Homo sapiens: one gene and its partner. The protein of the gene in region 1 interacts with the protein of each later gene in a biochemical or structural test. Each region holds a gene or a part of one and is shown in the gene's direction. Other genes may lie near its edges.

The links.
Region 2: the proteins of JAM3 (region 1) and ITGAM form a complex in vitro, tested with the Homo sapiens proteins (one study listed by BioGRID).

What each region holds. Positions count from the first base shown.
Region 1 is NC_000011.10:134,063,116-134,075,600, forward strand, and holds the start of JAM3 (junctional adhesion molecule C isoform 1 precursor), read left to right. Parts: upstream 1-5,956; 5' UTR 5,957-5,968; coding exon 5,969-6,044; intron 6,045-12,485. UniProt on the Homo sapiens protein: Junctional adhesion protein that mediates heterotypic cell-cell interactions with its cognate receptor JAM2 to regulate different cellular processes. Plays a role in homing and mobilization of hematopoietic stem and progenitor cells within the bone marrow.
Region 2 is NC_000016.10:31,316,699-31,329,188, forward strand, and holds part of ITGAM (integrin alpha-M isoform 2 precursor), read left to right. Parts: intron 1-4,542; coding exon 4,543-4,673; coding exon of another isoform or gene 4,674-4,677; intron 4,678-4,765; coding exon 4,766-4,929; intron 4,930-7,700; coding exon 7,701-7,855; intron 7,856-7,952; coding exon 7,953-8,084; intron 8,085-8,259; coding exon 8,260-8,333; intron 8,334-8,564; coding exon 8,565-8,706; intron 8,707-8,801; coding exon 8,802-8,924; intron 8,925-10,157; coding exon 10,158-10,237; coding exon of another isoform or gene 10,238-10,280; exon of another isoform or gene 10,281-10,301; intron 10,302-11,448; coding exon 11,449-11,532; intron 11,533-12,490.

The sequences.
Region 1 (12,485 bases):
ATCATTTTAACAATCCAGATGAAAAATGAGGGAGCTGATATTGGGCCAGTGGTGGTGGGGGTGGCCACTCCTTCCCTGTGGGGAGTGCACAAGGAGAATCTTGTACCTCCAAGCTCAGCAGAGTTTCCTGTTTCCTTCCTGTGTTCTGTCTTGGGCAGCAGCTGGTGGTAGGCCTGGGGCACAGGGACAGTGCAAACCTAGGGAACAATGCCCGGCTGGAAAACAACATATTGCCTGGAAGATAAATGGACTAAGGTGTGACCTCTGAGTGTAAGGGTTGCAGAAGCATAGGTGCCCTTTGCAGATGTGGGATTCAAGCTCTCTGTCCTTCATGGGGTGTGTGGCCATCCGCACTGGAGTAGGTCTCCACTGAGTGTCTTGAGTGCTTTCAGGATTCTGAGAATCACCCAAGAGGACCAAATACGTCCACTCCTCCTGATCCAAAATTTCATGGGAATATAATTTCATGGCATTAAAGACAAAGTATAGAGTCTTTTTTCTTTTTTTGAGACAGAATCTCGCTCTGTCACCCGAGCTGGAGTGCAGTGGTGTGATCTTGGCTCACTGCAAGCTCTGCCTCCTGGGTTCACGCCATTCTCCTGCCTCAGCCTCCCGAGTAGCTGGGACGACAGGCGCCTGCCACCACGCCCGGCTAATTTTTTGTATTTTTAGTAGAGACGGGGTTTCACCGTGTTATCCAGGATGGTCTGGATCTCCTGACCTCGTGATCCGCCCGCCTCGGCCTCCCAAAGTGCTGGGATTACAGGCCTGAGCCACCACGCCCGGCCTTAACTATAGTCTTATCCAGAGCTCTTATCTGCTTGCTCAAGGGGCATGGTCTTGAATAATTTCTGGGGAAAAGGTTTCCTGTGGAATGACCCTCTTCACGTTAGAAACCTAGGAAATCAAATTATGTCCCCCCATTTCCAGTCCTGGAACAGGATATCCAGAACCTCTTCAGTGGCCACCACTAAAAAGTGTCCTTCCCATCCTGGAAAGCTCTGAGTCACATAAATTGCTCTGTCAAATGCCTGGCCCAGAGCTCTTTGGAAGAGCTTTCCCCATTCCAAAGCCCTGAAACCGAGGGTTGACCCTGGCCGGGACTCTGTGTAAAGTGCAAGATCTCAGCAGCAGAGGAGGGAAAAGAGCGGAGGCCCAGGTCTCTCACTGGTGCCGCCAGGAAGTAAACACTCCATGGTGTAATTTGTGTGAAGAGAAAATTATCTCTAATTGGAGGGCTGGAATAAAAATATCTCCCATCTGTAAACAAAGTAGTTGGAGCATCCTGGAGGCACAGAACTGGAGCACCAGAGTGCTGCAGGTACCCTGTGGGCCACCCCACCCAGATCGTCTCAGCCCCAACCCACAAGCAGCGGGCGCTCCGGGACCTCACCGGAAGCCAGTGAAGGCGGCATACCTGTCCCTGAGGCTCATCAGTGTCCTCAGCCCCGAGGCACAGTCCAGAAAACAGCTTCTCACCTTCTCCCCAGGCCAGGGCAAATATTCAACAAGTCAGGTGAAGAGGGTAAAAAAATGCTGGTCTGTTTTATGTCATCACAGGGATCCCTCCTGGAAGGTGACTGGGGACTGCTGTTTACTGGCTATCTCAGACATCTTTTCTCAGACACCTTTTCTTTGGTGTCTGCAGGGGCACCTGCTTCTCCACATCCTCAAAGAAAGAATTGAGGCAGACACCCTGACACAGGCAGAGTGGGTGATATTCTTCATGGGGCCTGAAGTGAGAAATTCCCAGGAACATCAGCCCTAGGGAAGCGATTCTGTGTCAAGGGCTTTCCTTGTGTTATTGTCCACTGTTGGTTGTCCTGTTGTGTTTTAAGGTGCACCAGTAAAGAGCCCTTGGCTGATAGAGATACCACCAGGATACTTTAACTCCTGCCCTAGCATAAGGGTGTGACTCTCTTTAACTCCTGGCATGTATGATATTTCTACTGAAAGACACACACACACACACACACACACACACACACACGAACACCTAGCCTTCTTTTGGTGAAATGCAAAAGGTTTATTAAATAGCTGCTTATGAAAGCCTCTCTCTAGGAAGCCACTTGACCAAAATCTGCCATTGGTATATAAACTTTTTCAGCAAAGGAGAGAAATGTGCAAATAGATCGAACTGCGGAAGAACTTTTCTTCTTTTGCAGACCACAAGCGGCATATGTTATTGGAGAAGATGGAAGTTTTGTCTGCTACTGTTTCCTTAGAGGGAGGTGGGAGAAGGTTTTCCTATTTAAATAAAATTAAAGAAATACTTTGAAGGAAAAAGCAGGGGATAAGAGTTGAGATAAAATGTGGGATAACATAGTTGAAAATATTGTGAGGAAGATGGGACTTAAAGAGAGGAGAGATGGAGAAACAGAAACATACCCAGGTCTTTGAAAAGCCCTGAAGAAGAATGCTTTAAAGAAGGACTCTGAGGTCAGAGACTTCCATTAGTCAAAGGATCCCACTTCTCTCATGCGATGCGGGTTGACTTCAGATGATTGTTCAGGGCTAGAATAGCATAGTAAAGGAACAGAAGTCATGGATCACATTCCTTTTTTTCTTTTTTTTGAGACATGAGGCATCGGTCAATACATGTAAGGTGTACATTGGTTCTGTCTAGAAAGGTGGGACAACTATAAGTGGGTGGGGTTGGGATTTCAGGTCATAGGCAGATTCAAAGATTATTCTGATAGAAAGGAAGGTCTGGTCTGGCTCTGGGGCAGTGGCTCGCTTCTGTAATCCCAGCACATTGGGAAGTTGAGGCGGGCAAATTACTTGAGCCCAGAAGTTCAAGATCAGCTTGGGCAACATGGTGAGATCCCATCTCTACCAAAAAAAAAAGTAGAAAAATTAGCCAGCTATGGTGGCGCACACCTGTGGTCCCAGCTGCTCAGGAGGCTGAGGTGGGAGGATTGCTTGAGCCTGGAGGTTGAGGCTCAAGCATGAGCCACGATTGTGTGCCACTGCACTCCAGCCTGAGTGACAGGGTAAGACCCTGTCAAACAAACAAACAAACAAAAACAAAAAACAAAACAAAAAAAAAGCAAGCAAGAAAGGAACGTCTGTGTTAGAATAACGGTTGTGGAGACCAAGTTTTTATCATGCAGATGAAGCCTCCAGGTAACAGGCTTCAGAGAGAGAGAGAGAGTCTGTTGTATCAGTCTTTTTTGTTTGTTTGTTTTTAGACGGAGTCTCATTGTGTTGCCCAGGTGGAGTGCAGTGGCACGATCTCAGCTCACTGCAACCTCCGCCTTCTGGGTTCCAGCGATTCTCCTGCCTCAGTCTCCCAAGTAGTTGGAACTACAGGCATGCATCATGATGCCTGGTTAATTTTTTGTATTTTTAGTAGAGACAGGGTTTCACCATGTTGGCCAGGCTGGTCTCAAACTCCTGAACTCAGGTGATTCGCCCACCTTGGCCTCCTAAAGGGCCTGGATTACAGGCCTGAACCACCGCACCTGGCCCTATCAGTCTTAAGATCTGTTTTAATGTTGATGCTGGTCAGTTGGCCTGAATTCCAAAAGGGTGGAGGGTATAATAAGGCATATCCAACTCCCCGATCATGGCTTAAACTAGTTTTTCAGGTTAACTTTGCAGTGCCTTTGGCTGAGAGGAGGGGTCATTTCAGATTGTTGAGGGGCTTAGCTTTTTTTTTTTTTTGAGACAGAGTCTCACTCTGTCACCCAGGCTGAAGTGCAGTGGCGCAATCTTGGCTCACTGCAACTTCCACCTCCCGGGTTCAAGTGATTCTCCTGCCTCAGCCTCCCGAGTAGCTGGGATTACAGGCGCCTGCCACCATGCCTGGCAAATTTTTGTATTTTTAGTAGAGACAGGGTTTCACCATGTTGGTCAGGCTGGTCTCAAACTCCTGACCTCATGGTCTTCCCTCCTTGGTCTGCCAAAGTGCTGAGATTATAGGCGTGAGCCACCACGCCTGGCCAGGGCTTAGCATTTTATTGTTGGTTTACATTCAGTTCCCCGAGCTCTTTTAAGAAGTGCATGTCTCCCTAGTAAGCCACACCTTAGAAATAAGCATATTCAGATGAGTAATGCTGTGATGGAGGCAGAGCCTCCTCAGCCCTGCTCACGGAATGCTTCCAGGACTTTGCTGCTGGCCTTATTGAGCTCTGATTCCCTTCTGCACAGGGTCAGAGCTCTCCAGGGAACAATGAAACCCTAAGGAAGAGCAGACCACTTCACAGCCACGTGTGTCCTACCCCACTCTGCTGCATCCCTAGTTAGACTTCCATTCCAGGAACTGTCTCAGCTGTTGGTAATGACATGCCGACTCCATCTGCAGAGGAAAATCAATGTCTTACAATGAAGCACCTGCCATCCACTCTCCTAGGAACCTCTGCCCCTTATAGAATATTCATGCAGCCCTTTTTTGTAATCTCGGTCTGAGTTTCAAAAGATTCCCTAGCAGGAAGACCATTTAACAGATAGACCATTTTACAACGCAAACACTGAAAATTCCGCAGGAGAAAAGAGGCACTGGTTTTTGAAAACCGTGCTCTGTCCACAGTCAGACACCATCTCACATTTCCAAGTAACCCAAACAGTTCCTTCAGTTAGGTAAATATGCCTGGCCATGTGACCAGGAGCTAAAGGGAATAATAGGGAAAACAGAGGGCAGAAAAAAATGTCAGTGGGCATAAGACGAATTTTCTTCTTTTTAATTTCTCGATTTTGTGCTTGATAAAGGGAAAGAGGCCACCATTATAAAACAACTTTTACACACTTTTACTTGTGATTTAGTGCATGGTGACCTGGAACATAAAGAAGATTTATGAAAGGAAAGACAGAATCATAGTAGGTAATTGAGTTATTTTTTAATTTTTATTCTGTCTTTATAAGATTTTTGAGAAGGTAATCAATTAACATAAAGATCTGAGCAGTTATAAAGATTTACAAAGAAGATTATACAGTGATGGAAACTGAAGCATATTCTTGGCAACAATCTCAATCTATTTCACGTTTCCCGGCTTTTACATATATAAATTTGGTATACATAATATGTAAATATACTTCTATTTTGCATGAAAACTAAAAATACTAAAAAAGTAGCATGAGTATATGAAAAAGTTAAACATTAAAAATATTAGTTGGAAACTGGCTTATTTTACTAACAATTATATTCAGAATTCTGTTGCTAGACTGCTGTTTCTGGGAACATTGGAGGTGTACTTTCTATACTTGCTAAAATACAAGCTTTTCAAGTATTTTCCATAGTATTAAGTGAGACTTTAAATACTCTTGCTTTTTTAGATCTAATTTCTGCTTTAATTTATCCTTCTCTTCATTTTTCCTGTTTGTCCTCATCTTACCTGTTCTTCCCTGGTTTTACTATCTCCCAGTATTCAGAAATCAGAGCAAATAATTAGTCTGCTTTTCTGCAGAATAAACTATTGGGTATGCCATCATGCTTTTGATCTACCACATAAACAAATTATTTTAGCAAGACATCACTTTTATATGCTGTATAATGTATGTATTGCTTATGTTTTAAGCAGATTTCAGCTCTTTTCCTTCCATCAATTTGGAATTGGGGGCCCAAAAGATGTGAAGGCGATAATGCTTCCAAGATAACTGGGCTGCATCCTTATTTGTAAAATAAGAAATACTTTATTTCCCAAATTTTAAAGGAGTGTTCCTTCTCCGACCTGTTGTGATGGATTTATTCTATAGCTATGGAAATATACCCTGCTTCACTCTTGTACATACTTCTTTACTCTCCTCCCGCCAAGTTCATTGAAAGAGAACCCATGTGCCGGTCCAGAGCATCGCTGCATCCGTAAGCAGCTAGACCTCAGCTTCCTCTGTCACCATGGTGCCGGCTCGGCTGGGCCCGGCGGTCGCCATGGTAACTGGGGCGGGTCGCAGGGTCCTGGCAGGCTGGGCGCATGCGCGCGGGGACTACAAGCCGCGCCGCGCTGCCGCTGGCCCCTCAGCAACCCTCGACATGGCGCTGAGGCGGCCACCGCGACTCCGGCTCTGCGCTCGGCTGCCTGACTTCTTCCTGCTGCTGCTTTTCAGGGGTGAGTTTGCGCGTTTCCGCTGTTGGGAGACTAGGGTCTGGGGGCGACGGAAGCAGAGCGGGCCGAAGCTGCTGGAGCCGGTCCGGGCGAGGATAGCGGTCCTGGCTCCGAGGGCTCCCGGGGTCCCGGGCCGGAGGGGCGGCGCGCGCCCGCGTCCCCGCAGCCAGGGCTGGGACTCGGGCCTGGCTAGGGCGGGGGCCCTGGGACGCCCGGCAGTTGGACCGGGGCGGGGAGCTAATTTGGGATGGGGGGCCCGTCCCAGGCAGTGAGTCGGTCCCGGACAGCCGTCGGACCCCGGGGGCGGGCTCTTCTCGGGCGGGGTCCTGTGCTGGGCGGTGGGCTCATCCCCCGGGTGGGCTCCTCCCAGGCGGGGTCCTGTGCTGGGCGGTGGGCTCATCCCCCGGGTGGGCTCCTCCCAGGCGGGGTCCTGTGCTGGGCGGTGGGCTCGTCCCCGGGGTGGACCCCTCCCGGGCGGTGGGCACGGCCCTCTGGAGGGAGCGCGGCAGCTGCGGCGTGGGCGCTGGAACTTGCTGGAAGACCCTGCGCAGCAGTGCTGTGCTCTCCAGAAGGGACGGTGAGCGGGGGACGTAGCTGAGGACCGGCGAGGCAGAGCTCCGAGGCCTGGCGGGCTGCTTGGTCACAGCCCTCTGGGGATCTGCAGTTCATTTGACTCGACACAAAGGAACTGCTTTTCTTTTACAGAAATAAAATGGATATCAATCCAGTACCTTTTTTGTCTCTGGCCTGGCCGAGGAGACCACGCAGACTCTTATCCGGAAATAGCATTCGGGGCATTTGATCAAGACACACTAATAAACTTGATAGTTTTGTGCATTTTCTTTCCCTCTGTTTGGAATTCTCATTAGATCCACATTTTCCTGGACAGTTGTACAGAGGACTAAAATAGCTTTCCTTTAGTGAGCTTGTACTGTCTACTAGGCACTTTGGAGCCATTATCTCGTTTACTCCTTTCAGCAGCTCTGTGAGATAGGTTTCATTAATCCATTTTCAGAGTCAAGTCTAGTCTGCTTTCCAAGGCTGCATTCTAAGTAGTGAAGCCTCAACTTCATATTTACCTAAAGCAGGACACCACACTCTTCCCCTGGCAGCCATCCGCAGGTAACCAGACCAGGACCTTTTTCGGTTCTTAGATTATTTTATTGTTTGAATTGCCACTGTCATCCCATGATGTTTTCCAGAATATACAAATTAAAACACGGAGGGACTGTTTAGGAGTGAAGGTGGACAGATTTTGGAAAACAAAGCATTCCTGTGTTTGGTGCTTTATGCTAATGGGATGCTCGTGATGGGCTGTGACAAAAGATGAGTTTTAGCGTATAGATTATGTACGCTAAGGCAAAGTCTGTATACTTTGCCTGAAAGTGATTCCCAAAACCAAATGCTGTTGGGAGATAAGTGATCAAAGGCTAGCCAGGGGACAAGGGTGTCAGGAATGTCCAGCACCCGCTGTGTTGGTCACACTGACACTGTCCTATTCACAGCCTGGAACAACTCTCTATTGTTGAAAAGATCTGTTCACGTGAAAGTTTGCAGTTTTTGTTGCAGAAGCATTTGGCAGTTTAGCTCAGGAATGAATTTCAACTTGGTAGTTTGTTAATAAAACTAGAAAATGCAAAGAGCTTCACTTACCCTTAACCTCTGATTTCCTTCCCCTAAGGGACTAGTTTTGTGGCTTTTTTGCTGGTAGGGGCTGGGATTCACATGCAGAGCGTAGGAGGAAGAATCAAATTTTGCAAACTAGTTCTAATGACAAATAATCGAGGTAGTAGGATGTATGAATCCACTTTGAAGGCGTGTAGCTATCTTTTTTTTAGTAGGGGCTCTTTTTCCATTATTTGGTTTATGCTTTAAGCTACCCTAAAACTGTTCTTCCAGAAGTCATGACTACTGTGTCCTTTTTATTTTTTATGATTATTCTCAATTGCTATTACTATTTATTTTCATCTTAAAAATTTTGGTTCTTGATATAACAGCAAACATTTCTTTTGTGGTTACCCTTTGCCAGGCTCTGTTACAAGAATTTAATGTTTGCTAATTTATTTAATCTTGATAACTCTAAGAAGTCGTTACTATTGTTGTGCCCTTTTGTGGATGAGGGAACAGAAGTATGGAGAGATTCAGACCCTTGTCGGGAGTGTTATCCTGTGCGTTTTAAATGGGAAATCCTTCATTATTTGTGTTAATCCAATTTTTAGTTATTTGTATTATTCCATTTGACGGTGGAGTTCTTTTAATGGATCAGTTTAAACAGATTATCAAGTTTTCAACACTATGTGGTTTGTATATAAAATATTCTTTTGTTGACTCATGACAGGTGCAGTTCAGCTTTACAAATGTTATGCCACATGGCTTTTTTGAATGATTGTGTACTCATTAGTGTTAGGTTTCCAAATCTTTGATATTCTAGAGAGAAGTGCCTTATTTAGAATTAAAACAGCAACAGTTTTCATTCTTCAGATAAGACAACTTGTGTGCTGAAGCATATCAAAATCTGAAAATCAAAATTTCTGGGAAATTTTTGAAAAAATGTTTAATTCTTTTATTTGCATCTGTTTGGACTCCAGTAACGTTTTTTAGAATGGCATATTCTTTTATGTTCTAATTCTTAATTATCTGGCAGATATAATCATTGTCAGACTTGTGTGTATGTTTTAAAAAAAACAAAGAACACCTGTCTTGAAAGCATGCAGTACTTTATATCAGCTGCTCATTCCCACATGACTTGTTGATGGGCATTTGTTCTTCAGTGCTTCAGGCTAAGGAGACTGAATGGATAAGTACTAGAGATACTTAATCATAAGTAATTGCAGTATTACATTCAGGCAGAATTATCCACACAACCCCTAAGCTCCATGGAACTTGTTCTTAAACTCCATGGGGTGGGTTTAAATCAGTTCTTTTGAAAGCAACCAGACTTTCCTCAAGTATAAGATGGCCACATAATGTAACAGACGCAGCTATGGATTTAGTACATTCGACTAGCAGCTGTTAGAGATGTGGTATTAGCAAATTCCTTCTCCATAAATTCTTTGAATTTTTTAAAAGCACAAATGTAGTAAAAGAAAGGAAAATATGTGTGAATGAAGTTAGGATGTATGGAGTCTGCTGAAGAATACCCTAGTGGTGAAGTTGGATTTTTTTTTTTTTTTGAGACTGAGTTTCTGATGCAGTGGCATGAGCTCAGCTCACTGCAAAACTCACTGCAAAACTCCGCCTCCCAGGTTAAAGCCATTCTCCTGCCTCAGCCTCCCGAGTAGCTGAGATTACAGATGCGTGCCACCTTGCCTGACTAATTTTTTTATTGTTTTTAGTAGACATGGGGTTTCACCATGTTGGCCAGGCTGGTCTTGAACTCCTGACCTCAAGTGACCTGCCCGCCTTGGCCTACCAAAGTGCTGAGATTACAGGCGTGAGCCACCACGCCCAGCTGGATTCTCTTTTAAGATATGTTTATAGTTGGCCGGGTACAGTGGCTCACGCCAGCACTTTGGGAAGCCGAGGTGGGCGGATCACAAGATCAGGAGATCAAGAACATCTTGGCCAACATGATGAAGCCCTGTCTCTACTAAAAATACAAAAATTAGCCGGGCGTGCTGGTGCTTGCCTGTAGTCCCAGCTACTCTGGAGGCTGAGGCAGGAGAATCGCTTGAACCCGGGAGGTGGAGGTTGCAGTGAGCTGAGATTGCGCCACTGCACTCTTGCCTGGGGTACAAGAGTGAAACTCCGTCTTGGGGGAAAAAAAAAGATGTTTATAGTCAGGTGGTGTGAATGTTATGCTGTCAAAGTTGAATGCAAATTTCAGATCTTTGCATGTACTCTCAGAATTCTAGCAGTATATGCAAATAGCTTCACTGGAGTGTAAAGCGATCCCGAAAGAAAGTTTTGGTAAGCACATTCTTTTACACCTAGTTTAGCAAGGACAGTATCCACTGTGGTACTCTATATGGAGAGCTAAAGCCTTAATTGACTGTCTCTCTGCTTCTTGGCATGGCACACAGAAAGCTTCCTGAGAGTTAGCCCTTGTTTCTGATGTCCCAGGAATGCTGTAGTGTTTTGTGTTGGTGTGTTTCTTTTGGTTTTAAGTAGTATTTGTTATGTGTTATATATTACATTTCCCATGAGTAGTTAATACATACAGCAGAGGTTTCAGTGCTGCTTGTATAAAGACATCAAACTATTTAATAGAGTTAGGACTATATGAACATTTTTTCTTACATTATCTTTCATTTGCAGTTTCCCAAGGTTTCTATGGTTCAGCCTTCTTCCTGAAAATTATTGCCAAAATCAAATTCTGCCATAGTCATGCTATCTGCTATGTTTGACAACCTCAGCCCACAGTGATCCTTCCTATCTCTAAATAAGCTTAGATCATAGTCTCTAGTTCAGTTTAGTACAACACCCATTTATTGAGTATCTATGACGTGTCAGGCACTGTTCTGTGTGCTAGGGTTGCAAAATGGGTAAAACATCGCCAGTCCTTAAAGAGCCAGGGTAATTGACTCCGATTTACATTGGGCTTTAGTTGTTAGGTGTCAGTGCATTGTATTTTCTCAATGATAATAAACATTTTGTTGGTAACAGAGGCTGAATTTAATTTTTTTGTATCTTTCCAGAGGTGATTCTAGTAAATATTCAGTTTATCTCACTTTGTCACTTGAAAGTGAGTTAACATTTCTTAAACACTCTCTTTGTGTCGAGGCATTTTTAAAAAAATGTCTTATTTCTAGTGGCCCTAGGAACTTCTGGAAAAGTGTCAGTTTGTACTACAGTAGTTATTCTGGAAGAAAGAGAATGGTAATAATTTATTGACTTGGTTTAATTTCAGAATCTTTCTGCCATCTGCTTTTGTGCAGTTACAAGGTTAAGAAGGAGAAAAAGATGGAGAAATGCTTATGATATCATTTAAGTGACACAAGCTGCAGGTATACTAGTATATACTGTATGATTACGATTACACAAAACATCTATGCTTAGGGGAAAAAACAGGATGAGAATGAACCAGACTGTTGATAGGGGCTGTTTATGAGTGGAAGTGTTACAGCAAATTGTTTTCTGCTTTTCTTTGTTTTTGTTTTCCTGGTTGATTCTTGTATTCCTTTGTCTGTTTTCCAAATGTTCTTTGATGAGGATATTTTTTGTGTAATGAAAAAAGTTGCATCTTGGTTTGGCTTCCAGTAGATACAATAGTGGAATTTTAAATTTGGCACTAGTAATGGGAAAATATAATTTGTTTGTTTAATGTGATAGCATGTGGATTGTGCCTTTTTCTAGCTTCTTAATATCAGCCACATTGGATGAAGGAGTGGCTGACTGGAAGTTCAGTTGCTTGATAATGTATTGTTTGTGACTCATTTGAGAGATTAGTTGCCACTGACTTTTGGGTGGGGGAGTCAGCTGTGGTGTCCTCAGCAAATGGTTAGCTGGAAAACTGAGAGCTGCCGAGATTACCGGCCTCCCCCCTTCTTTTTGAACACACTGACAAAACGATCTGAGTAATGGCCTTTGTTCACCTGTTCAAAGCGAGCCAAAATTTATTGAGCACCTACTCTGTGGCAGCCCCTGGAAGATCTCTGTTTTCTTCCTCTTGAGTGATAAAAATACAGGGTGAAATTGACTTCTGTTGAAACTAGACTCTGAAAGATGTTTCCCGAAGCACTCTGTCAGCTGATGTGCCCCATCACTTCTTCCTGCCCAACATGGACTTCCCTGTTGGATGTCTTTCTCTAAGGAAAATATTTAATGTCTTTAGAATGAAGTGCAGCTGCCTGGAAGCTTAGAGACAATGCAACAAATCCAAAGACAGCTGCTTTTTTTTTTTTTTTTTTTGGCAGGGGTGGGGCATGTTTTTCCTTTAAAGCATCTCTGTCAGGGTACTGAAACTTAATCAGCCAATCCATATTTATTTGGTAGTCTCCATTTTCATGGCAGTAAAGCATTCCATGGGCAAAGCAGGAGAACTTAAGATAATGTCTTCCCTTTACCAGAGGGAACATATAGTTTAGTCAAATAACAGAGCAGCATTTGGGTAAATATTCTGTGGGTTTAGAAGTGAGAGCACTTACTCTCTCTGGGCTGACCTGGTAGAGGAGAATTTCAAAAAGGAGCTGGACTTGTACAGATAATTGACTGACTTAAGTATAGATTTGGGAGGGACAGCGGTGTGGATGGGAAAGTGGAGGAAATAATGTGGGCAAAGGCATGGACTTGGGAATGCACATGTTTTGTTTTGGGATGAGTGAGTTATAATGATTAATAACACCTGCCAATTACTGAAAACTATGTGATAAGCATTGTGCTTATTGCTCTATCTGGGGTCTTAGTGAGCTTGGGCTTCTATGACAGAATACCACAAACAGGGTGGCATAAATAAGACATTTGTTTCACGGGCTCTGGAGCCTCACCTGGGTAATTTTTTGAACA
Region 2 (12,490 bases), on another chromosome or scaffold:
TTGAATAGTATGGACCTTTAAAAATATTCTTTCAATCCATAATATGGGATATCTTTCCATTGATTTTTGTCTTAACTTTCTTTCGTCAATGTTTTATAGTTTTAGTGTGCATATTTTTCACCTTCTTGGTTAAATTAACTTGTAAGCATTTTATTTTTTGATGCCATTGTAAATAGGATTAATTTCTTTTTCAGATAGTTTGTTGTTAGTGTATAGAAACAAATAATTTTTGTATGTTCATTTTGTATTCCATGACTTTACTAAATTTGTTTATTAAATTTGATAACTTTTTCGTAGAGTATTTATAACAAGTTTCTTATATATAAGATCATGTCAATTGCAAACAGGGACAATTTTTTTTTCTTTATTTCTAACTTGAATGCATTTCTTATCTTTTTCTTGCCCAATTGCTCTGGCTAGGACTTTCAGTACTGTGTTGAAATAGAAGTGGTGAGTGTGGGCATCCTTGCCTTGTTCCTAATTTTAGTGGTAAAATCAAATTTTCACCACTGGGTATGATGTTAACTAGACACTTTTTTTAATGTTCTTTATCATGTTGATGTAATTTCCCTGTATTTCTAGTTTGTTGAGGGTTTTTAATCATGAGTGGCTATTCCTGTGGCCTGAATGTTTGTGTCCTCCCCAGATTCATATGTTGAAGCCTAATTCCTTGTGTGATGGTATTTGTAGATGGGACCTTTGGAAGGTGTTTAGGTCATGAGAGTGTGGCCATCATTAATAGGATTAGTGCCCTTAGACAAAAGCAAAATGATGGTTGCCTATGAACCAGAAAATAGGCTCTCACCAGATATTGAATCTGCTTGCACCTTGATTTTGGATGTCACAAGTCTTCAGAACTATGAGAAATAAATTTCTATTGCTTATAACCCATCCAGTCTATGTTATTTGTTATACCAAATAAGCTAAGACAGATGTTTAGTTTTATTAAATGCTTTCTTTTCTTATTGATAAGATCATGTTATTTTTATTCCTTATTCTGTTAATGTGGTGCATCACATTTATTGATTTGCATATGTTGAGCCATCCTTGCATGCCAGGAATAAAGCCCACATGGTCATGGCGTATGACCCTTTTGTGCTATTGAATTCAGTTTGCTAGTATTTTATTTAGGATTTTGGATCTATGTTCAATAGGGAAATTGGCATGTAGTGATCTTTTCTCATGGTGTGTTTGTTGGGATTTAGTGTCAGGATAGTGCTTGCCTCATACAATAAGTTTGGAAGTATTCCCTCCTCTTCAGTTTTTTGGATGAGTTTGAGAAGAATTCATATTAATTCTTATTTAAATGTTTGGTTGGTAGAATTTGCCTGAGAAGCCACCAGGTCCTGGGCTTTTCTTTGTTAGGAGGTCTTTGATTACTGATTCAATTTCCTTACTCATTATAGATCTGTTTAAACTTTCTATTGCCTTATGATTCAGGCTTGGTAGGTTGTATATTTCTAGGAATTTATCCATTCCTTCAAGGTTATCAAGTTTGTTAACATATAATTGTTCATAGTAGTCTCTTAATGATCCTTTTTATTGCTATGGCATCAGTTGTATGTTCTTTCATTTATAATTTTACTTATCTGTTGTTTCTGTTTTTTCTCCCTTTTTCCTTGGTCTACCTAAAAGCTTGTCAGTTCTTTTTTTTTTTTTTTTTGAGATGGAGTCTCACTCTGTTGCCCAGGCTGGAGTGCAGTGGCATGATCACAGCTCACTGCATTCTCCACCTCCCAGGTTCAAGTGATTCTCCTGCCTCAGGCTCCTGAGTAGCTGGCATTACAAGCACGTGCCACCACACCTGGCTGATTTTCGTATTTTTAGTAGAGACAGGGTTTCACCATGATGGCCAGGCTGGTTTTGAACTCCTCATCTCAGGTGATCCACTTGCCTCGACATCCCAAAGTGCTGGGATTGCAGGCGTGAGCCACTGCACCTGGCCAAAGCTTGTCAATTCTATCTTTTTGAAAAATCAACTTAATTTCATTGATTTTTTTCTATTCTCTATTTGATTTATTTTTCTGTAATCTTTATTATTTTCTTCCTTCTACTAACTTTAGGTTTAGTTTGTTCTTTTATTTCTCATTTCTTGAGGTGTAAAGTTAGGTTTTGTAATTGAAATTTGTCTTTTTGTTTTAAAATTAGGTGTTTATCCCGAACTTTCCTTTAGTACTGCTTTTGCTGCCTCCCATTAAGTTTGGTATATTGTGTTTTTGTTTTCATTTATCTCATGTTATTTTCTAATTTATTTTTTTATCCATTAGTTGTTCAATGGTGTATTGTTTAATTTTTACATATGTATGTTTTTTTCCAGTTTTTCTTCTGGTATTGTTTTTAGTTTCATTCCATTGTGGTTGGAAAAGATTCTTGATATAATTTAAATCATTTCAAATTTGTTAAGACTTGTTTTGTGACCTAACATGTGGTCTGTCCTGGGGAATGGTCCATGTGCACTTGAGAAGAATGTATATTCTGCAGTAGTTGGCTTGTGTATTTTGTATATGTCTGTTAAGTCCATTTGGTCCATTCTCCCTTGGGTTTTTTTTTTGTCTAGTTGTTCTATTTGCTATTGAAAGTAGGATTTTGAAGTTTCTTACTATTGAATTGCTGTCTATTTCTCCCTTCAGTTCTGTCATTATTAGCTTTATATATTCAGATGTCTGATGGGTGTGTATATAATTAATTGTTGTAACTCCTGGTGAAATGGCCATTTCATCATTATATAATATCATTATTTGTTTTTTGACTTAAAGTCTATTTTGTCTGATATTAGCATGTCATCCTGCTCTCTTTTGGTTACCATTTTAATGGAATAGCATTTTCTACTCCTTTACTTTTAGCCTATGTGTCAGTAAATACAAAGTGGGTATCTTGTAGATAGCATATAATTGGATTTTGTATTTTTATTAATTCTGCCACTCTGTTTTGAGAGTTTGCTTCTGTTTACATTTAAAGTAATTATTGATAGAGAAGGATTTACTACTGCCATTTTGTTAATTGTTTTCTGTTAGTCATGTAGGTCTTTTGTCCCTCTTTTCTTCTCTTGCTGTCTTCCTTTGTGTTTTATTGTTGTTAATTTTTGTATTAATATGCTTTCATTTTGTTCTCTTTTTGTACTTTTTTTTTTTTGAGACGGAATCTCATTCTGTCACCCAGGCTGGAGTGCAGTGGTGCGATCTCGGCTCACTGCAAGCTCCGCCTCCCGGGTTCAGGCCATTCTTCTGCCTCAGCCTCCCGAGTAGCTGGGACTACAGGTGCCCACCACCTCTCCTGGCTAATTTTTTGTATTTTTAATAGAGATGGGGTTTCACCACGTTAGCCAGGATGGTCTTGATCTCCTGACCTCGTGATCCGCCCACCTCAGCCTCCCAAAGTGCTGGGATTACAGGTGTAAGCCACGTGAGCCACCGCGTCTGACCCTTTTTTTGTGTATATAACTTCTAAAGGTATTTTCTTTGTGGTTTCCACAAAACATCTCATAATTATCATGGTCTATTTTAAGCTGATAACAACTGAACTTAAATCACATGCACTCTATACTTTTATTCCCCACTACACGTTTTACGTTATTGATTCACAATTTACAGTTATTTATATTGTGTATCCAGTAACATAATTTTAGCTATAGTTATTTTTAATATCTTTGTCTTATAACTTTTATACCATAATTAAAAGTGTCCAATTCACTTGCATTAAGGACATGACAAAATCACTTTTAAAATTTCTTTAAAATTTATTATTTGGCTGTCATTTTTTTCAATATTACTCTTGCACATACTTTAAAGAGTCAAAATAGTTCCAAAAAGCTCACTATTAAAAAACAACAATTTCCACATACACGATGGTTTTGGCTTCATTTCCCTTGCTCTTGAGGGAACCACTTTCAGCTCTTTCAATTCTCTATTTGTTCCAATTACATAATAATAATTTTGCTACTTTTTGATTTTTGTTTTACCACTGACTTCCCACCATGGAAGGTGGAGATTGATCTCTTTTTCAGTTTTCCTTTTGCCACATAGTAGCACTCTTTTACCCCCCATTCACGCCTCATGTTTATGTGATCATTTTGTTTAGATCAACATTCAGTGTTTGCATTATTCTGACTACGTAAATGAAATTCAGCTGAGCCAAATAATATACTTTTACTTTTCCCTGTATGCAGGGAAATGCAGGTAATTAATAGAAATTGGGGTTGGGCGTGGCGGCTCACACCTATAATCCTAGCACTTGAGAGGCTGACAGGGCAGAATCGCTTGAGCCCAGGAGTTCAAGACCAGCCTGGGCCACAAAGTGAGACCCCCGTTTTTATTTTAAAAGTTTTTTTAAAAAAGAAATTGTAGGTATCCTCTTGAGGTTGTGGTCTAAAGGTGAATAATTCCTTGATAAGTTCTAAGCTGTCCTAGTTCCTTGGTTAGTTGCAAGAGATGAGACTTGAGTAGAGCTTAGAGAACCTCTGTCTGGGCCATGCTGGATGACTGAGTTATACATCTCCTGTCTTTCCTACCCCTTTCTCTCTCCACACCTCTTTTTTACCCTCAGCGGATAGCAGGCTCCAAGCTCTCTCCCAGGCTCCAGTATTTTGGTCAGTCACTGAGTGGGGGCCAGGACCTCACAATGGATGGACTGGTAGACCTGACTGTAGGAGCCCAGGGGCACGTGCTGCTGCTCAGGTGAGAATGCCTTTTGGAGTCAACCGGACATTCTCCCTTGAAGGAATGTTTCCTGTTTGAAGGTCCCTGATGGTTTTCTGGTGTCCCTTTAGGTCCCAGCCAGTACTGAGAGTCAAGGCAATCATGGAGTTCAATCCCAGGGAAGTGGCAAGGAATGTATTTGAGTGTAATGATCAGGTGGTGAAAGGCAAGGAAGCCGGAGAGGTCAGAGTCTGCCTCCATGTCCAGAAGAGCACACGGGATCGGCTAAGAGAAGGTGAGGCTTGGTGGATGAGTCTCAAGAGGTTAAACGACCGAGGACATGAATGGGTGCTGCAATCCACTCTGCCCAGCCTTCTGGCTGTCCTGAACTGAGTTCTCACAGGCTCTGACAACCTTCTCCAAGCCTTACCTGAGTGAGCAGGCTATTGTCCTGCTGGGTAGGGAAGTCCAGTGGACCTCCCTAAAGAGGTGAGCATGTGGCACTTCCTTACTCACTCAGTTCTCCAGAGAACTGAAGGCCCCATGCCTGTGAACAAACTATGTTTTTGTTTTTTAATAAACGGAGAGAAAACCTATTTGGGGAGATTGAATTGATGAAGCTAAACAGAGATTTACAAAGCACTCACATACGCATTTTATCACCAGTGACTTCTTCCCTTGTTCCTATTCTCAAAGAGTAGAACTGTGTTTGGGGTGGGAGAATAGTAATGACAATACTAAGAATAACTGTCTCTAGTAGTGACAGCACTAGGAATAACTGTCTCTAGTAATGACAGTACTAGAAAGAATTGTACCCTCTTTAAAAGTAAAATTATTAGCTAGGCATGATGGCATGTTCTTGTAGTCTCAGCTACTTGAGAGGCTGAGGTGGGAGGGGAGGATCACTTGAGCCCAGGAGGTTGAGGCCAGCCTGGGCAACATAGCAAGACCCATCCCTAAAAAATGATTACCTTTCTAGGAACAGTTTTCCTGTGCTGAGGAGATAGCATTCCAGATATGAGAGCAGCCAGCATGGCTAGAAATTAAGAGCAAAATGTTAGAGAGTAGGGAATTGAAGAAGAGGTACCCTTAAACCTACATAGAAGTCCCCCTCTACTCTTTGGCTGACTCTTAAGACACGAATGCCTAGGTCAGTACTCCAAGACACCCAGTAGAAAACAGCAACTGAAAAGCCAAAGAGCTGATCAGAGAATTCAGCAGCTCCTCAGTGCTGGGGAGACAGAGATTTGAGAGGCCTTGGTAAATACCTTGGTCTTTCCATTGAGACAACTGACTAGCAACCAAGAGAAACAATATACAATAGAAATAGACCCACAGGTGATTCAGAAATTAGAGTGATTGGATAGGAATTTTTAAAAGGTAACTATAATTAATATCTTCAAGAAAAAAGGGAAAGGATGAGAACTTCAGCAAAAACCTGGAATTCATAAAATAGAGTCAAATGGAAACTCTAGAACCAAAAATCGCACTGACTGAAATGAAGAATTCAGTAAATAGATTTATAGCAGATTAGAAGCAGAACAGAGAATTAGTGAACAAGAAGACAGTCATTTGAAAGTATCTGGATAAATATGCGATAAAAAGAAAGAAAAATACAGAAAAACACCATAAGAGATGTGTGGGATATGGTGAAAGATCTAACAAACATGTAATTGGAATTACAGAAAGTGGTGGTGGGGGAGGAGAGAGAGAGAGAGAGAAAGAAAATAGGAAAGATGGAATAGGAAAGACAGAATAGGAAAGATGGAATAGGATGGAATAGGAAAGATGCAGTAGTTAAAGAATTTCCCCAAACTGGCCAGTCACGGTGGCTCACGCCTGTAATCCCAGCACTTTGGGAGGCCGAGGCAGGTGGATCACCTGAGGTCAGGAGTTTGAGACCAGCCTGGCCAACATGGTGAAACCCCATCTCTACTAAAAATACAAAATTAGCAGGTGTGGTGGTATGCGTCTGTAATCCCAGCTACTCAGGAGGCTGAAGCAGGAGAATTGAACCTGGGAGGCGGATGTTGCAGTGAGCTGAGATCGCCCCATTGCACTCCAGTCTGGGTGACAAGAGCGAAACTCCATTTCAAAAAAAAAAAAAAAAATTCCCCAAACTGATGAAAGACATCAAGATTCTTTACAAAATCAAAGCAGGATAAATATGAAGGACATTATATCATTGTACGTTATAATCAAACTGCTGAAGACCAAAGACAAAGAGAAAAAAATTTAAAGTAGTCAGAAAAATACAATAAATTTTTTAGTGAGTGACAGAATAGCTACCATTTATTGAGCACTTATTGTATAAAAGACACTGTGCTAAATACTTGATAAGCACTATTTCATTTCCTTTTTACCATTGGGAGGGTATCATTATTATCCTCACTTTAAAAATAAAGAATGGAGGCCAGGCGCAGTGGCTCATGCCTTTAATCCTAGCGCTTTGGGAGGCTGAGGCAGGTGGATTACTTTGAGACCAGCCTGGCTAACATGGTGAAACCCCATCTCTACTAAAAATACAAAAATTAGCACGGCGTGGTGGCATGTGCCTATAATCCCAGCTACTTGGGAGGCTGAGGCAGGAGAAACGCTTGAACCTGGGAGGCAGAGGTTGCAGTGAGCTGAGATGGCACCACTGCACTCCAGCCTGGGCAAGAGAGTGAGATTCTGTCTCAAAAAAGAAAATAAAAAATAAAAAGAAAGGAAGGAAGGAAGAAGGGAAGGAAGGAAAGGAAGGAAAGTAGGAAAGGAAGGAAAGGAAGAAAAGGAAGGAAGGAAGAAGGGAAGGAAGGAAAGGAAGGAAAGTAGGAAAGGAAGGAAAGGAAGAAAAGGAAGGAAGGAAAGGAAAGGAAAAAAGGAAGGAAGGAAGGAAAGGGAGGAAGAGAGCGAGGAAAGAAAGAAAGAAAGAAAAAGGAAGGAAGGAAGGAAAGAAGACTCAGAGAAGTCAGATAACATACCCCAAGTCACACAGCTGAGAAGCAGAGGAGCTGGGCCTTGAACTCCCATCTGCCGGGTTCCGAGGCTCAGGCCCCTCACTGCTGTGCCACCCTGTCCCTTCAGGACAGATCCAGAGTGTTGTGACTTATGACCTGGCTCTGGACTCCGGCCGCCCACATTCCCGCGCCGTCTTCAATGAGACAAAGAACAGCACACGCAGACAGACACAGGTCTTGGGGCTGACCCAGACTTGTGAGACCCTGAAACTACAGTTGCCGGTGAGCAGGCTAGTGGCCAGACCCCTGGGTCTTCCAAGCATGGAGTGGGCTTGGGGAGCTGAGGAGGGCAGATCCCCAAATCCCGGCTATCTCTTAGAATTGCATCGAGGACCCAGTGAGCCCCATTGTGCTGCGCCTGAACTTCTCTCTGGTGGGAACGCCATTGTCTGCTTTCGGGAACCTCCGGCCAGTGCTGGCGGAGGATGCTCAGAGACTCTTCACAGCCTTGGTGAGTCCAGAGTTGGGGTCCTGCAGGGGTGTGGAAGAGACCAGAGACCAAGGTGGTTGAAACTCATTTTATTTGATTGCATCTAATTTTACTTCAACATTTGATTTTATTGTTTAATTTCACAATACTTGGTTATTTTCTTTCCTTTCATTTGATCATATTTATTTTTTAAAAGTTTCCCTTTGAGAAGAATTGTGGCAATGACAACATCTGCCAGGATGACCTCAGCATCACCTTCAGTTTCATGAGGTGAGTTTCCTTTCCTCCTCACCTCCTCCAGAGAAGGACCCGTACCATGACCCGCTCTTTTCTCCTCCTGGCCCCCAAGGGAGCCGGGTGTTCCTGGGCTATAAGGTCCGGTGTGGCTGCCCCTCCACTGTTGTCTCTTCATCAAGTGTCTGCGTCTCTGTTCTGCTGGAGCAGGCTTGCCACAGGGAAGCCCAGCGCCCCATCCCCCGGCCTGTCTTCTTCTTCCCACAGCCTGGACTGCCTCGTGGTGGGTGGGCCCCGGGAGTTCAACGTGACAGTGACTGTGAGAAATGATGGTGAGGACTCCTACAGGACACAGGTCACCTTCTTCTTCCCGCTTGACCTGTCCTACCGGAAGGTGTCCACGCTCCAGGTAGCCACATCCTTCTCAGGCTCTATCTGACCTTTGCTTCCCCATCCTCACGGCCGGAGGTGGATATCACCGCCTTTGCCTCCCCTGCCTTCCAGAACCAGCGCTCACAGCGATCCTGGCGCCTGGCCTGTGAGTCTGCCTCCTCCACCGAAGTGTCTGGGGCCTTGAAGAGCACCAGCTGCAGCATAAACCACCCCATCTTCCCGGAAAACTCAGAGGTCAGAACTCCTGGCTCCTCCCCTCCTTTTCTCTTTGATTTCTTTGGGGATTCTTTTCTTCTTCTTCTCTTCTTTAGTAGTGGTTCCTTTTTGTACAAAACAGCTTTATTGAGATATAATTCATATACCATCCAATTCACCTATTTAAAGCATACATTTCAAGCCCGGCACAGTGGCTCATGCTTGTAATCATAGCACTTTAGGAGGTCGAGGCAGGAGGATCGCTTGAGCCCGAGAGTTTGAAACCAGCCTGGGTGACACGGCGAGACCCTGTCTCTACAAAAAATGTAAAAATTAGCTGGGCGTGGTGGTGCACACCTGTAGTCCCAGCTACTCGGGAGGCTAGGGTGGGAGGATCGTCTGGGCCTGGGAGGTTGAGGCTGCAGTGAGCTATGATCACACCACTGCACTCTAGCCTAGGCGACAGAGTGAGACCCTGTCTTGAAAATAAATAAAATGAAATAAAATAAAATAAAGTATACAGTTCAGTGGCTTTGAGTGAATTCATAGGGTCTTGCATCCGTCATCATGATCCATTTTGGAACATCTTCATTACCTCACAAAGAGCTTCTGTTCCCGTTGGCCCTCAGCCCCAGTCCTCCCATATCCCCCAGCCCTATGCAACCACTAATCTACTTTGTCTATAGATTTGCCTATTCTGGACATTTCATATAAATGAAATAATCCCGTATGTGATCCTTTCCCTAGCATAATATTAAGCAAGGACTTAGCAAGGATCATTCATGTCGTAGTATATGTCAGTACCTCATTGCTTTAAAAAAATTGTTTTTAAATTTTTTATATATATTTTTGAGATGGAGTTTCACTTCGTTGCCCAGGCTGGAGTGCAGTGGTGCAATCTTGGCTCACTGCAACCTCTGCCTCCCAGGTTTAAGCAATTCTTGTGCCTCACTCTCCCAAGTAGCTGGGGTTACATGCGCCCGCCACCACACCCAGCTAATTTTTGTATTTTTAGTAGATACAGGGTTTTGCCATGTTGGCCAGGCTGGTCTCGAACTCCTGACCTCAGGTGATCCACCTGCCTCAGCCTCCCAAAGTGCTGGGATTACAGGTGTGAGCCACCGCACCTGGCCTTCATTGCTTTTTATTTGGTGAACAATATCCTGTTGCATGGATGGGCCATATTTCATGTCTCCATTAATCAGATGACGGGCATTTGGGTTATTTTTTCTCTCATATTTCTGTCATTGTCTCTCCTTTCTCTCACTCCAGGTCACCTTTAATATCACGTTTGATGTAGACTCTAAGGCTTCCCTTGGAAACAAACTGCTCCTCAAGGCCAATGTGACCAGGTGCTCTCTGCTACCAGGCTTCTGCAGGCAGTTGCCCGTCTGACGCCCCAGCCCCTGGCCCATGGTGGGCCTTTGCCCTTTGCCCACTGGTTCTCCCTTCAACTCATTTGTTCACTCAGCAAACACTCACTGACCACCCACCACGTGCTGGGCCTTGTGCTGAGTGCTGGTGGGATGGTGGTGGATCAGACGATAGTGGTTCCTGCCCTCTCGGAGATGATAATTTAGTGGCAAAGACAGACAAGAAATCTAGCCATTAATCTTGCATCCATCTCAAATCCAGTATGAGATGCAAGATTAGATGGGGGACGGCCAGTGTTCTTGGGAGTTTGGTGTTCAGAGAAGATTCCTAAAGAAAATATATTTAGGAGCTGGGCGTGCTGGCTCAAGCCTGTAATCCCAGCACTTTGGGAGGCTGAGGCAAAACAATTGCTCGAACCCAGGAGTTCAAAATCAGCCTGGACAACATATCAATACCCTGTTTCTACAAAAAAAAAAAAATACAAAAATTAGCCAGGCATGGTGGTGCATGCCTGTAATCCCAGCTACTCAGGAGGCTGAGGCACAAGAATTGCTTGAGCCTGGAAGATTGAGGCTGCAGTGAGCTGAGATGGTGCCACTGCACTCCAGCCTGGGCAATAGAGTGAGACCCAGTGTCAAAATAATAATAATAATAATAATAATAAAAAATAAAAGGGAAAAAAAGAAAATATATTTAGACAAAGCAAAGGCATGAACTGAGGGCGGGCATGAAGACAGAAGGCAGGAAGCAGATACCAGGGACGGGAAGATCAGGGTGTGTTTAAGAGTGGCCTCAGCATGAAATGCAGGGCTGAAGGAGTTGGTGGTGGTTAGATACAGGCCATGTCCCAAAATGACTGACGGGTGTTGTTTGGGATTTGCAGTTTCGCCTCTGGGAGTGACATAATCATATTTGCATGTTAGAACGATCACTCTTCAGGAGGGCTGGCGATTGGGGTGGGAGCAGGTGTGAATTCAGGGGACCAGTTAGAAGAAGGTGGTTGCAGACATCCAGCTGGAGAGGGATGGGCCTGGGCTAGGCGGGGGCAGGGGTTGGAGAACAGTGGGGTTTCAGATGCAGAGATAACAGAACTTGGTGGCTGATTGGAGGCAGGGAGTGAGGGAGAGGGAGGAGCAAAGACTAACTGTCAGTTCTCAAGAGCCGGCTGGAGCTCTTTCTTTCCCTCCAGTGAGAACAACATGCCCAGAACCAACAAAACCGAATTCCAACTGGAGCTGCCGGTGAAATATGCTGTCTACATGGTGGTCACCAGGTGCTGGCTTCCAGGACTTTAGCTGAGCCTCCACTTCTGGGCTGGACATGGCTGATTGTGCATCTGTGTGCATGAGTCTGTGCATGTGTGTGTGTGTGAGAGTCTGAGGATCTCTGTGCATGTATGTGTGCATGGGTGTGTATTTGGGCATGGGTGTGTGAGTGTGATGATCTATGTGCATGTTTGTGTGCATGGACGTGTATTTGTGCATGTGTGTGTCTGAGGATGTATCTGCATGTGTGTATGTGTGCATGGGCGTGTATTTGTGGATGTGAGTGTGATCTATGTGTGTGTGCGTGCATGGGTGTGTATTTGTGCGTGTGTGTGAGGATCCTTGTGCATGGGTGTGTATTTGTGCATGTGTGTGTGAGGATCTATGTGCATGTGTGTCTGGGCATGGGTGTGTGTGCATATGTGTGTGTCTGAGGATATATGTGCATTGTGTGCATGGGTGTGTATTTGTGCATGTGTGTGTATGAGGATCTGTGTGCCTGGGTGTGTATTTGTGCGTATGTCTGAAGGTCTATGTGCATGCGTGTGCGCATGGGTGTGTATTTGTGCATGTGTGTGTGTGAAGGTCTATGTGCATGTGTGTGCGCATGGGTGTGTATTTGTGCATGTGTGTGAGGGTCTATGTGCATGTATGTGTGCATGAGTGTGTATTCGTGCATGTGTGTGTGTCTGAGGATCTATGTGCATGTATGTGTGCATGGGTGTGTATTTGTGCGTGTGTGTGTCTGAGGGTCTGTGTGCATGTGTGTATGTGCTCATGGGTGTGCATTTGTGCACGTGTGTGTGAGTGGCCCAAATGGGCACGCACTGTGTGTCCAGCACACATTGGTTCCCCCATCCCCCTGCACCCCACCCCATCTCCACCCCCCAGGACTTCATACCCATTACCCATGTGCCTGTTCGCTCCTTACACACTTAGCCTGAGACACCCTCCCAGGGCACCCCT